Homo sapiens: one gene and its partner. The protein of the gene in region 2 interacts with the protein of the main gene of each other region in a biochemical or structural test. Each region holds a gene or a part of one and is shown on either strand. Other genes may lie near its edges.

Region 1 (7,040 bases), on a different chromosome or scaffold from region 2:
CATTTGTGCTGCCTCCTCCTTTGAAATGCCTGTTAAGTCTTCTCCCCATTTTTTATTGAGTTATTTTGTTATTCCAAATGGATCCTTCCCCCTTCTCCCATGTCCAGTTCCTAGAACCAAATGGATTTTTAGGAGTTTTGTTTACTCTGAATACTGATCCTTTGCCAGTTATTTTTTTTATTTTTATTTTTATTTTTATTTTTTTTAAAGACAGAGTCTTGCTCTGTCTCCCAGGCTGGAGTGCAGTAGTGCAGTCTCTGCTCACTGCAACCTCCACCTCCCAGGTTCAAGCGATCCTCCTGCTTCAGTCTCCCAAGTAGCTGGGATTACAGGCATGAGCCAACACTCCCGGATAGGGTTTCACCATATTGGCCAGGTTGGTCTCAAACTCCTGACCTCAAGTGATTTACCCACCTCGGCCTCCCAAAGTGCTGAGACTACAGGTGTGAGCCACTGCGCCCAGCCATATATATAGAATTTTTTTTTTTTTTTGAGACAGAATCTCGCTCTGTCTTGCAGGCTGGAGTGCAATGGCACAATCTCAGCTCACTGCAACCTCTGCCTCCCGGGTTCGAACGATTCTCTTGCCTCAGGCTCCCAAGTAGCTGGGACTATAGGCACGTGCCACCATGCCCAGCTAATTTTTGTATTTTTAGTAGAGACGGGTTTCACCATCTTGGCCAGGCTGGTCTCAAACTCCTGACCTCAAGTGATCTGCCCGCCTCGGCCTCCCAAAGTGCTGGGATTGCAGGAGTAAGCCACTGCGCCTGGCCTAGAAGTTTATATATTGAATTATCTTCCAGCTTATGGCTTGGCTTTTGACTTTGGTGTCTTCTGATGAATTGAGGTTCTTAAATGTAGCATGATTTATTGGGCTTTATATTTTTTATTATTCCTTTATATTTTGCATTTTCTGTCTTGAGAAAAAAAGTCTTTGTACTGAGATAAAAGGAAGCTTAGTTCTGTGAGAAAGTAGAGACAAAGATGCTCTAAACATCTTTCTCTGTCCTGTTATTGTTCAGGGGTAAAAATGTCTTTAGCTTCTGATTGCCTTCATTTCTGCTTTTTGTTTTGTAGATACAAGTCCAATTCTGCTCAACTGCTTGTTGAGGCTCGAGTTCAGCCTAATCCATCAAAACATGTGAGTGTCTATTACTTGAATGAGGCTTCTCCTAATTGCATGTGGTTCTTGCTTTGGCTTGCAGTGTCCTTAAGAGCTATCTTTACTTGGCTGGGTGCGGTGTGGCTCACGCCTGTAATCCCAGCACTTTGGGAGGCTGAGGCGGGTGGATTACGAGGTCAGGAGATCGAGACCATCCTGGCTAACACGGTGAAACCCTGTCTCTACTAAAAATACAAAAAAAAAAAATTAGCCGGATGTGGTGGCAGGCACCTGTAGTCCCAGCTACTCGGGAGGCTAAGGCAGGAGAAAGGCGTGAACCCGGGAGGCGGAGCTTGCAGTGAGCCAAGATCATGCCACTGCACTCCAACCTGGGCGACAGAGCGAGACTCTGTCTCAAAAAAAAAAGGAGCTCTCTTTGCTTTGTTTATAGTTCAACATGCCCACAATATTTGTTCTAGTATTGACTTAAATCTTCTGTTATGGTTTGAAAAGTTTCCTTATAGATAGGGACTAAGTCATTGCCTGTCCTTGGGCCCTCTCCAGCCCCACTTTCCTCTCTGCACTTTCAGCCTGCACTCCATTCCTTCTGGGTGCTTTGGTGTGTCTGAGATTACTGCATATGTCTTCTGTTTGTGCCTTCCCTTCCTAGAATGTTCAGACTCTGGCTCCACCTTTGCTTATAGGGAGGGAATTCACCTTTAAAGACCCCAGTCCGGCCAGGCACGGTGGCTCACGCCCATAATCCCAGCACTTTGGGGGGCCGAGGCGGGCGGATCACTTGAGGTCAGGAGCTTGAGACCAGCCTGGCCAACATGGTGAAACCCCATCTCTACTAAAAATACAAAAATTAGCCAGGCCTGGTGGCGCATGCCTGTAATCCTAGCTACTTGGGAGGCTGAGGCAGGAGAACTGGTTGAACCCGGGAGGTGGAGGTTGCAGTGAGCCAAGATCGCACCCCTGCATGCACTCCAGCCTGGGCGACAGACACTCCATCAGAAGAAAAAAAAAATCTAAGCCACCTCTGACAAAGCCTGTCTCCTGGATCATTCCCCTGGAAACTCACCTAATTATATCTATAAACTTTTACATGTGTGTTATAGTGATTAACTCATATCATTTTACCACCCCTACCATAGAAGCTGTATTTTAACAATGCATAGCAATTTCCTGTTTATCTAGGAGCTAAACGAACATATGTCGAATATTTTTTGAATGAGGGCCATGCTAAAATAGATCTTGGAAGGCAGAATTGGGGCTCAGATCACCACATAATTTCTGCAGCCTCTTAAGACAAAGGTTTCCAGAAGCAAAATGGATAAACATGAGAATCCAGTTCTTTTTCTCAACTTGTTTTTTTATATTCCCAGTTAACTAAAAAGAACCTAATGTTCTTGTAAGTGGACTTTTCCATTGGTTTGTGGTTTTAGCCAAGGTCCCCAGATTGTCTTTCTCTGCCAGTTTGTGTAGCATGATGTGGATTCTGGAGTTCATGCTATACAGTTATTTGCACACATTCTAGAAGAGTTTCTTCCCCTAGTTGGTGTCTCCACATCCCCCCCGCCAATATTAATTACATGTGACATCTGGTGTATTAAGGATGAGTTGTAACTTGGTAAAGGCTGTAGTATTTTGTGGTTTGGGTACGTCGATATAGTGAAACCACTGTCCTTGACAAGTAAAACTACAGTGTTGGCTGTTAGAAGATTTATAAACTCATCCTCTAATAACCTTTGTGACTAGGTTTCTAGTAGTTGTGAGGGGCAACTCTGCTGTGCTTAACAGGGGTAGTCTACAAAAGAAACCTGATAGCTTCTAAAAGAATTTGGACTAAGTGACTTCTAAGGACCTTGGCAATTCTGAAACCCTGAGTTTTTCAGTCTGCCATTATAAACCACTGTAAGTTCTCATTTCAGCCTTGTTTCTGCCTCTGAATCCTGGTGATTTTGCAAGCCCAGCCCAGCTGCCACCTCCTTCAGGAAGCCTTCCTGGTATATACTTTTAGCTTAGTACCCTTGGGACTCAGAGTCCACACATTGCAGTTGAGCTCTGATACTTGTTGCAGGGTGAGGATCACTTTCCATGCACCCGGCTGCATGAGGTACCCTTATGGCCTTCTGGACCTGACTCCTCTTTGGCTCATGTGGCTCTGTTTCTCTCCAGGTTCCCACATCCCATCCCCCTCACCACTGTGCAGTGTGTATGCAGTTTGTGCGAAAGGAAAACCTACTCTCTCTGGCCTGTCAGCACCAGTTTTGCCGCAGCTGCTGGGAGCAGCACTGCTCAGTTCTCGTCAAGGACGGCGTGGGCGTGGGTGAGTCTGCCACAAAACTTATAAAAAGCTGGCATGAAGTGTTTATCTTTGACTCTGCCTTTTCATGTACTCAAGTAAACTGAGTATTTTCTTCTGAGCCTGATTGGGGTTTTTATCATCAGAACTAGTGATTTTCAAATACATCCATACAAACAGTGACAAAGTTTTCCCCAGTCCTCAGCAAAACGAGAAAACTAAATATACTGTTGTAAATGTTGGCGTGAGTGCAGAGCTACCTTCTCTCACCTTTTGGGAGAACGATCCTTTAAGCTGCCTACCTTGATTCCACAAGTGGCAGCCATAACTCAGAAATGCCCACAAGAGTTTGCTGCTATTTAGGTAACATAGCACAAATCAAATTTGATGATTAGTTACAGAAGTATTTGTTATACTGTGATTTGATGATACTGAAACACATTAGCATCGCATTAATTGATATCTGCAAAGTCCCACAATTGGTGATAATCACCTCTAAATAATGTTAAACATCACAAAACTCAATTGTTAGTCAAGAACCTATATAAGGATTTTTTAAATGGTTTTGTTATTTAATGGTGCCGTTAGTGATACAATTTGGGATAATATTTTAGTTTCATTGCTGTGAAAATATGCTAATTTCTCTCTTCTCTTTGAATAAATTCTGTTGCTTGAAGAGTTTCTTTTATGCAACTTGGATTTGTTGACAGAACTAGGTGGGCAAGTTGTGTCTTCTGCAGTATGCTTGTCCATCACTTTTTTGGGTTTGTTTTTTTTTTGTTTGTTTGTTTGTTTGTTTTTTGAGACAGTTTCGCTCTTGTTGCCCAGGCTGGAGTACAATTGCATGATCTCAGCTCACCACAACCACTGCCTCCCGGGTTCAAGCGATTCTCCTGCCTCAGCCTCCTGAGTAGTTGGGATTACAGGCATGTGCCACCACACCTGGCTAATTTTTTTTTTTTTTTTTTTTTTTTGAGACGGAGTCTCGCTCTGTCGCCCAGGCTGGAGTGCAGTGGCGGGATCTCGGCTCACTGCAAGCTCCGCCTCCCGGGTTCACGCCATTCTCCTGCCCCAGCCTCCCAAGTAGCTGGGACTACAGGCGCCCGCCACTACGCCCGGCTAATTTTTTGTGTTTTTAGTAGAGACTGGGTTTCTCCATATTGGTCAGACTGGTCTCGAACTCCCGACCTCAGGTGATCTGCCTGCCTTGGCCTCCCAAAGTGCTGGGATTACAGGCATGAGCTATCGCACCTGGCCCCATCAGGTTGTTTTTGTTCAACAGGAGTCTCTTGCATGGCTCAGGACTGTCCACTCCGTACACCAGAGGACTTTGTGTTTCCATTGCTTCCCAATGAAGAATTGAGAGAGAAATACAGGCGCTACCTCTTCAGGGACTATGTGGAGGTATGGCCAGCCTTTGTTCTGCCCTCTGTCTTCCCGGGCCTACCTTCCATCAGAGGGTCACCACAGTTACTTACTTTGTAGACTAGGCTGACATTAAGTGATAGTGTTCAAAGAAAGCGCTCCATGGCTTTAAAAAAAGTTTGAAAACCACTGGAGTGATAGTGAAGAGTACAGGCCTTAGAATCAGACACACCATTGTGTGAAACTTGGATACTTCCTTTCTTTGTGACCACTCTTTTTTTTGCGTGTGTGACTGCCTTGCTGTGTTGCCTGGCTGGAGTGCAGTGGCGCAATCTTGGCTCACTGCAACCTCCGCCTCCCAGGTTTAAGCGATTCTCCTGCCTCAGCCTCCCGAGTAGCTGGGACTACAGGCATGCACCACCACTCGCAGCTAATTTTTGTATTTTTAGTAGAGACGGGGTTTCACCAGGATGATCTTGATCTCTTGACCTCATGATCTGCCCCCCTCGGCCTCCCAAAGTGCTGGGATTACAGGCGTGAGCCACTGCACCCAGCCTCTTTCTTTTTTTTTTTTTTTTTAACCTCTGAGTCTTGATTTTCTCTTCCATAGACAGACCTCCCCACCTTATACATAGTTGCTTAAAGAAGCTATTGTGTGTCAGCAGGTGAATACAAATTAGGCATATTTAGGAGCTGCTGTTAGATTCAGTTTCCTGTGTGGTTGAGCAGAGAGAAGGGGTATTGCTTTTTGAGTAATTGGAAAACTTGTCCAGGATTCAGCGTGGTCACTTTTGGAGTCCTTTCCCTCTATTAGGCCATCTGCTAGGCCTGCTGATTCCATGCAATATAATTTTCTTTTCTTTTTCTTTTTCTTCTTTTTTTTTTTTGGAGACAGGGTTTTACTCTGTCATCCAGGCTGGAGTATAGAGGCACAAACATGGCTCACTGCAGCCTCTGACCTCCCAGGCTCAAGCAATCCTCCCACCTTAGCCTCCCGAGCAACTGGGACTACTGGCGCGCACCACCAAACCCAGCTAATTTTTGTATTTTTCGTAAAGATGGGTGTTTCACCATCTTGCCCAGGCTGGTCTCGAACTTCTGAGCTCAAGCCATTCACCCGATGCAGCATAACTTTCATCTTTGTCTTTTTTGCCTAAGCTTTTCAGATTAATTTATGGTCTGGGTCTTGTCATGCACATGCCGCAGGATAAACAGAAGGCCTTGTTCTTTATGCTGTTTGCTGCCTTTGAGGGTCATTGAGCTCCTCAGATATATGTTTTTTTTTTTTTTTTGAGATGGAGTCTCACTCTGTCACCGAGGCCGGAGTACAGGGACACGATCTCAGCTCAATGCAACCTCTATCTCCCAGGTTCAAGCGATTCTGCAGCCTCAGCCTCCTGAGTAGCTGAGGTTACAAGCTCGCGCCACCACACCCAACTAATTTTTGTGTTTTTTAGTAGAGACAGGGTTTCACCATGTTGGCCAGGCTGGTCTCAAACTCCTGACCTCAGGTGATCCACCTGCCTCGGCCTCCCAAAGTGCTGGGATTACAGGCATGAGCCACCGCGCCCGGCCTTGTTATTTTTTATTTTTTTCAGAGACAGAGTTTCACTGTCATCCAGGCTGGAATGCATCGGTGCAATCAGCTCACTGCAGCCTGAAATTTCAGGCCTCAAGCAGTCTTCCCACCTCAGCCTCCTGAGTAGCTAGGACTATAGGCAGGAGCCACTATGCCTGGTGCAATTCTATATAAACTTAGATCATTCCAGTGAGTTGCTACCTGGTTTAAGCTAAACGTTCTAAATTCCTCTTTAATATCTGGCTTACGTTTGGTCTTCACATCCTTTCTGAATTTATATAGCCCCTTCGTATAAGTCATCAGCTGGGAGAACAGAAAGTGTTTGAATATTCAGGGGGTTCTGATTTTTAGACAGCAACTAAGAGATGTCCTCATTGTTTCCTCTTGGTGTGTTCACAGAGTCATTACCAGCTCCAGCTGTGCCCTGGTGCAGACTGCCCCATGGTTATTCGGGTACAGGAGCCTAGAGCTCGCCGAGTACAGTGCAATCGGTGCAACGAGGTCTTCTGGTAAGAGTGAGTGTGAGTGCTGAGCAGCCCTGGGCTCATGCCCCATCCTCCAAAGCACCACTGCTGTTGCTCCATGTGAGGGCGGCACTGGAAGAGGCAGGGTCTCTGAGCCAACAGAACAGCTGTGCTCCAAGTGGGTAGGTTTATGTCCAGCATCTCATATTCCACTAGGTCTTC
Region 2 (4,423 bases):
TTGTGGTGAAGAATTGCTGGTATATAAAGAATCATGTGATTAACCCCATAAAATTAAGGAAAAATCAAGACAGTAAAGTATCAGCTGCCTTAATCCTTTGTGGCCCAAATGTGGATTTTTAAAATAAGATATTGAAAAACGTATCCTGCACATGTACCCCGGAACTTAGAAAGAAAGAGAGAGAGAGAGAGAAATAAAGAAAGAAAGAAAGTCCATGTTAAGATGTTTTTTCAGATATAATCTGCTGTCCTTCAAGAACAAGAAAGAAGACGGGCTCACTGATCCATACAAACTAACACCCACTTGGAAATTCAGATTTGAAAACTTCCTCTGAATTAGAACGGAGTCACACGGTTTTAGGACAGCTTCCCCCTCCCCTTCCTGTTGAACATCTGCTCTGAGTGTTCATGGCTTATAAAGTCAGGGGAGTCCTCCCGGGGTAGATTCAGCTGGGGAGGGCACGTGGCCTTTGCTCTGTTTCCGTTTAGCAGGAAACCGTTTGAGGCCTTTGGCTGGGAACCCCCCTTCAGAAAGTCTCCCTTTCACCTGGTGCCCCCATGGTGCTTCCAGGGACTCGCATTGCAGGCTGGGAGTCAGTTCAGGTTGCAACACGTCACCCTCCAAGTTGCTTGAAGGCCTTAGACTGTGGTGCAACCAGCTGCTGCCAAGAGCATGTGGGTCACAGTGGGTCCCCTCTAGCTTTATCATAGACTCATACTTTCTCCCCTCCCCCTCCCATCCCCACAGGTGAGAAGCCTCACAAGTGCCAGGTGTGCGGCAAGGCATTCAGCCAGAGCTCCAACCTCATCACCCACAGCCGCAAACACACAGGCTTCAAGCCCTTCGGCTGCGACCTCTGTGGGAAGGGTTTCCAGAGGAAGGTGGACCTCCGAAGGCACCGGGAGACGCAGCATGGGCTCAAATGAGCACCCTGGCTGGCTGCAAGCAGCAGCTACACAACACTACAGAGGGCAGCCTCCCTGCTTGCCACCACTCTGCTCCCTGCTTGCCTCCACTCCCTTCTGACTTTCCAGACCCCAGGTCCAGTCTGCAGATCCTACCAGGTTGCTCCTCCTTCGCCTTACCTCCTGGAGCTGCCAGAAGAAATGAGGTACCTTTTCAAAGTGCAGCCGAGAGTGAGAACCAAGTGACTCTCTAGGCTTCGGACACAAATAGGCTCCTCTACACCTGAAGACAAAGGCAAAGTCAAATGGGGACCAGAATAAATCTTAGACCCCACAGTCCTTCCCATTTCCAGCCCTAATCTACAGACAGGAATGCCCTTCAGGTTTCTTCCCTCCCCCCTCTTGACCTACCCCAGATATTTGTGTGGAAGAGGAGGAATCACCATTTACAAGGTGGACAAATGCTAATATTTTTATCTAGAAAGAAGAGTGAGTGTTAACTTTTATTTTTTTCCTTCTGGGGGGTCTGTTGACTCCTTTCTTTTGGGTGCTGCCTATAAATCTTGGAGGAATCATTTCTCCTCCTCAAAAACTGATTCAGAAACTGACTTGGGGAAGGAATTTAATACTTTGAAGTCATGAGATGCACCATCGAGGCTACCCCCAAGAAGAAGCAGAAGAGAAGTTGGTAATGAGAGGGGATTAGAGGTCCTCCCTTCAGTAGGGCTGTGAAAACCTCATCACTGGAGGTAAAAGCACAAGCAATGCCTGTGGACAAGATGTCATTCATTCACTCAGCAAATGTTCATGGATCACCGGCTACCAAGGTACCAGGCACCATGCTAGGTATTGGGGAAGAGAGACTGAAGTCACAACCCCTGACTGCTCCTCAAAAGCTAACGGTTGCACCTCCAAGTGGCTGGGTCTGTTCTTACTCTTGGAGGGAATTCTGAGAAGACAGCACAGAATTGTAAACCTTCCCTTTTGACCCTTTTGGATTTTATCAGGTGTAAACAAAAAGCTGAACAGTTACTTCAAAGATATGTGTGTATATTCAGTTTTTTATTGTTAAGCTGATATTTTAAAGATTTCTGAGCTAGCAGGCATGTGGGAAGGAAGGCTCTGTCTTCAACTCTTTGACCCTCCATGTGTACCATAGAGGGGGGAAAGGTGGTATTTTCACTTTGATGAGGTTGGTAAATGTTTTTAGATCTTCTGGTAAGCATTATGTTTGTTAATACATATTTATTAGAGTGATGTTTTAAGTTAATAAAGTATTAAGAGTATTACAGATTGCCTTTCCTTTAGGCAGGGAATTTGGGGAAGACCTTTGTTTTAGTCTGTAGGGGGAAAGCTGGCACTGAAGGAAACTGCAATGGAGTATAAAAGTGAAGCACACAAGCTAATATCCAGAAGAGTAAAATCCAATTGCTCGGGTTTCCATATACTTTCTCCTTTGCTGCTACACCTCAGAGATACTTCTTTCATCTTCTTTCATAAGAGAAAAACTAGGAGGTGTACAAAACTAAGCTACTACCTTGTAGAGCCCCTGATGGTTCCACAGGCACGTAAGTAAGCTCTTTCCTCTGAAAATGTCAACATATTTTTTTAGGGGCCTGAAGGCTCCCAGATGAATAAAGAAATCACAGGTCTTAGGTCTAGGTTTTAGTTTTAGTCACAGCTCTGTCACCAACACATCATGTGACTTGTGTAAATCTTTTGACTTCCCCGATACTGGTTTCCTTGATCAAGTAATACGGAGACAGCTCTGTCATTCCTGTCCAACCCTGACCGCTTTGATTCTGTGGAGACTGGAAAGGAAAAAAAGTGTGAGATTGGTTAGCTGCCTCCCCTAATGCAAGTCACAAATCTAAAGGCCCATGAGGATCTGGGTTATTTCTGGTTCTGTCCCACCTGTGGGAGTTTTTTGCATAAGTCAATCCTTTAAGAGAATGAAACCAGAATAAAATCCTGGCCAAAATCCCTACTACTAGTGCTTTAACACCTCCCAGCCAGACATTCAGGGTATGCATGCCCCATGGTGAGAACCAGCAGATTGCCCATTTCCAACTCAAATTGATTTCACACATATAATTGAGCACCCAGTATGTGCTGGGCATTCTTCTAGGGGGTGGAGATATAGCAGTGAGGACAATGTCTTACGAAGCTTTATTTATTCATTGTTGAATCCTCAGTTCCCAGAATAGTGCCTGGCACACAGTAGGAGATTAATAAATATTTACTGAGATGTTAAGTGAATAAACAGAAAATAAGCTCCTGCTTCATCCTAGGGCCTGGCTCTGCTCTCTACAGCACAAAGGGAAGAGAGATTGCTTGACAGCCTGGGAAACAAATAGAATCCACACGACTTTCTCTCCAGGTTGGCAGGAAAGGGGGGCTTGAATGCTGCTTTTCTCTGGTTTCTCCAAATCTCAGTCCTTGGCTGTCCTCACCTGATTTCCAGCACCATGTCTTTCCATGTCAGTTTACTCTCATTCAGAATTTAAATTCGTTTACTCTGTAATGGAGTTTAAGATAGTTTTTCAGAACTGATGGATGATGAACAGTTGCAGCGTCCAGGAACCACTTCCTAGTGTCCTGGGAGACAATCCTCCCAGTGAATGAAAATGACAAAAACATCCTTCCCACAGAAGTCACCCTGTGTACTGGTTGGTTATTTCCAACCTGGTTTGAAAAGTAAAGAAGTTGCACTGAGGGGTAAGTAGAACTGATTGAAATCTAGGTGCCTGTGCTGTCCTGCTCTTCCCTTATGACGTTTAGAACATTTGGTCCATTTTTGTTATCCCTGTTTATGCTCTAAGTGAGGAATTGTAATTTTGATGTTAACTGTATGCCTTTTTTTTTTTTTTTTGGTAAAAAATGTATCTTGATATCCCCAGTTCAGAATCAAAACAAATTACTGTGCCTGTTACCGTGTGAAATTTGAAGATTGCAAATATCTCTCTTAATGTTATTACTTGACTCCATTAAAAATAGATTGTGAATATTCCATGTCACATTATTCATGAGGCAGGCTCTATGCCTTTTGTCTGCTGGAGTAACAGTAGAAAGGGTAACAAGAGACACCAGAGCACACCTTTGTTTCTTTCACTAAATTTTTAATAACACCTCCAGCTAGCCAGTTGGTGAAGCTCAGCTCTTGCATAAAAGTGGAAAAGCACAGCTATCTCTGAGAAGACCAACTCTTTCAGCGCTAATTTGAGTTTGCGTTCATCTACACCAGACGTGATTAAATTACCTATCAAGTGTGCTGAGCTATCAGGATTCAGGCCACGTAAAAGGTGAATTTCATCTGATTGATTTGAGACACGGATGGAACAATTGAGTTTTAAAAGCCCCGCCTTAATTAAAGGGATAGAAGAGTATCACTCCCCGGCGACTTCTTGACTGCCATTGCCCTTGAAAACTGGGTGGTGATAGTGATTTGACCCAAGTCACTTTGTTGTGTGCCTGTTTGTTCAACCTGATCATTTCACAGAAAGAAATGAACTCAGAGG

Evidence for each region.
Region 1: the proteins of GFI1 (region 2) and ARIH2 form a complex in vitro, tested with the Homo sapiens proteins (one study listed by BioGRID).

Annotation. Positions count from the first base shown.
Region 1 is NC_000003.12:48,963,842-48,970,881, forward strand, and holds part of ARIH2 (E3 ubiquitin-protein ligase ARIH2), read left to right. Parts: intron 1-1,077; coding exon 1,078-1,141; intron 1,142-3,283; coding exon 3,284-3,434; intron 3,435-4,219; exon of another isoform or gene 4,220-4,336; intron 4,337-4,692; coding exon 4,693-4,814; intron 4,815-6,753; coding exon 6,754-6,863; exon of another isoform or gene 6,864-7,000; intron 7,001-7,040.
Region 2 is NC_000001.11:92,472,532-92,476,954, reverse strand, and holds the end of GFI1 (zinc finger protein Gfi-1), read left to right. Parts: intron 1-747; coding exon 748-926; 3' UTR 927-3,912; downstream 3,913-4,423. UniProt on the Homo sapiens protein: Transcription repressor essential for hematopoiesis. Functions in a cell-context and development-specific manner. Binds to 5'-TAAATCAC[AT]GCA-3' in the promoter region of a large number of genes.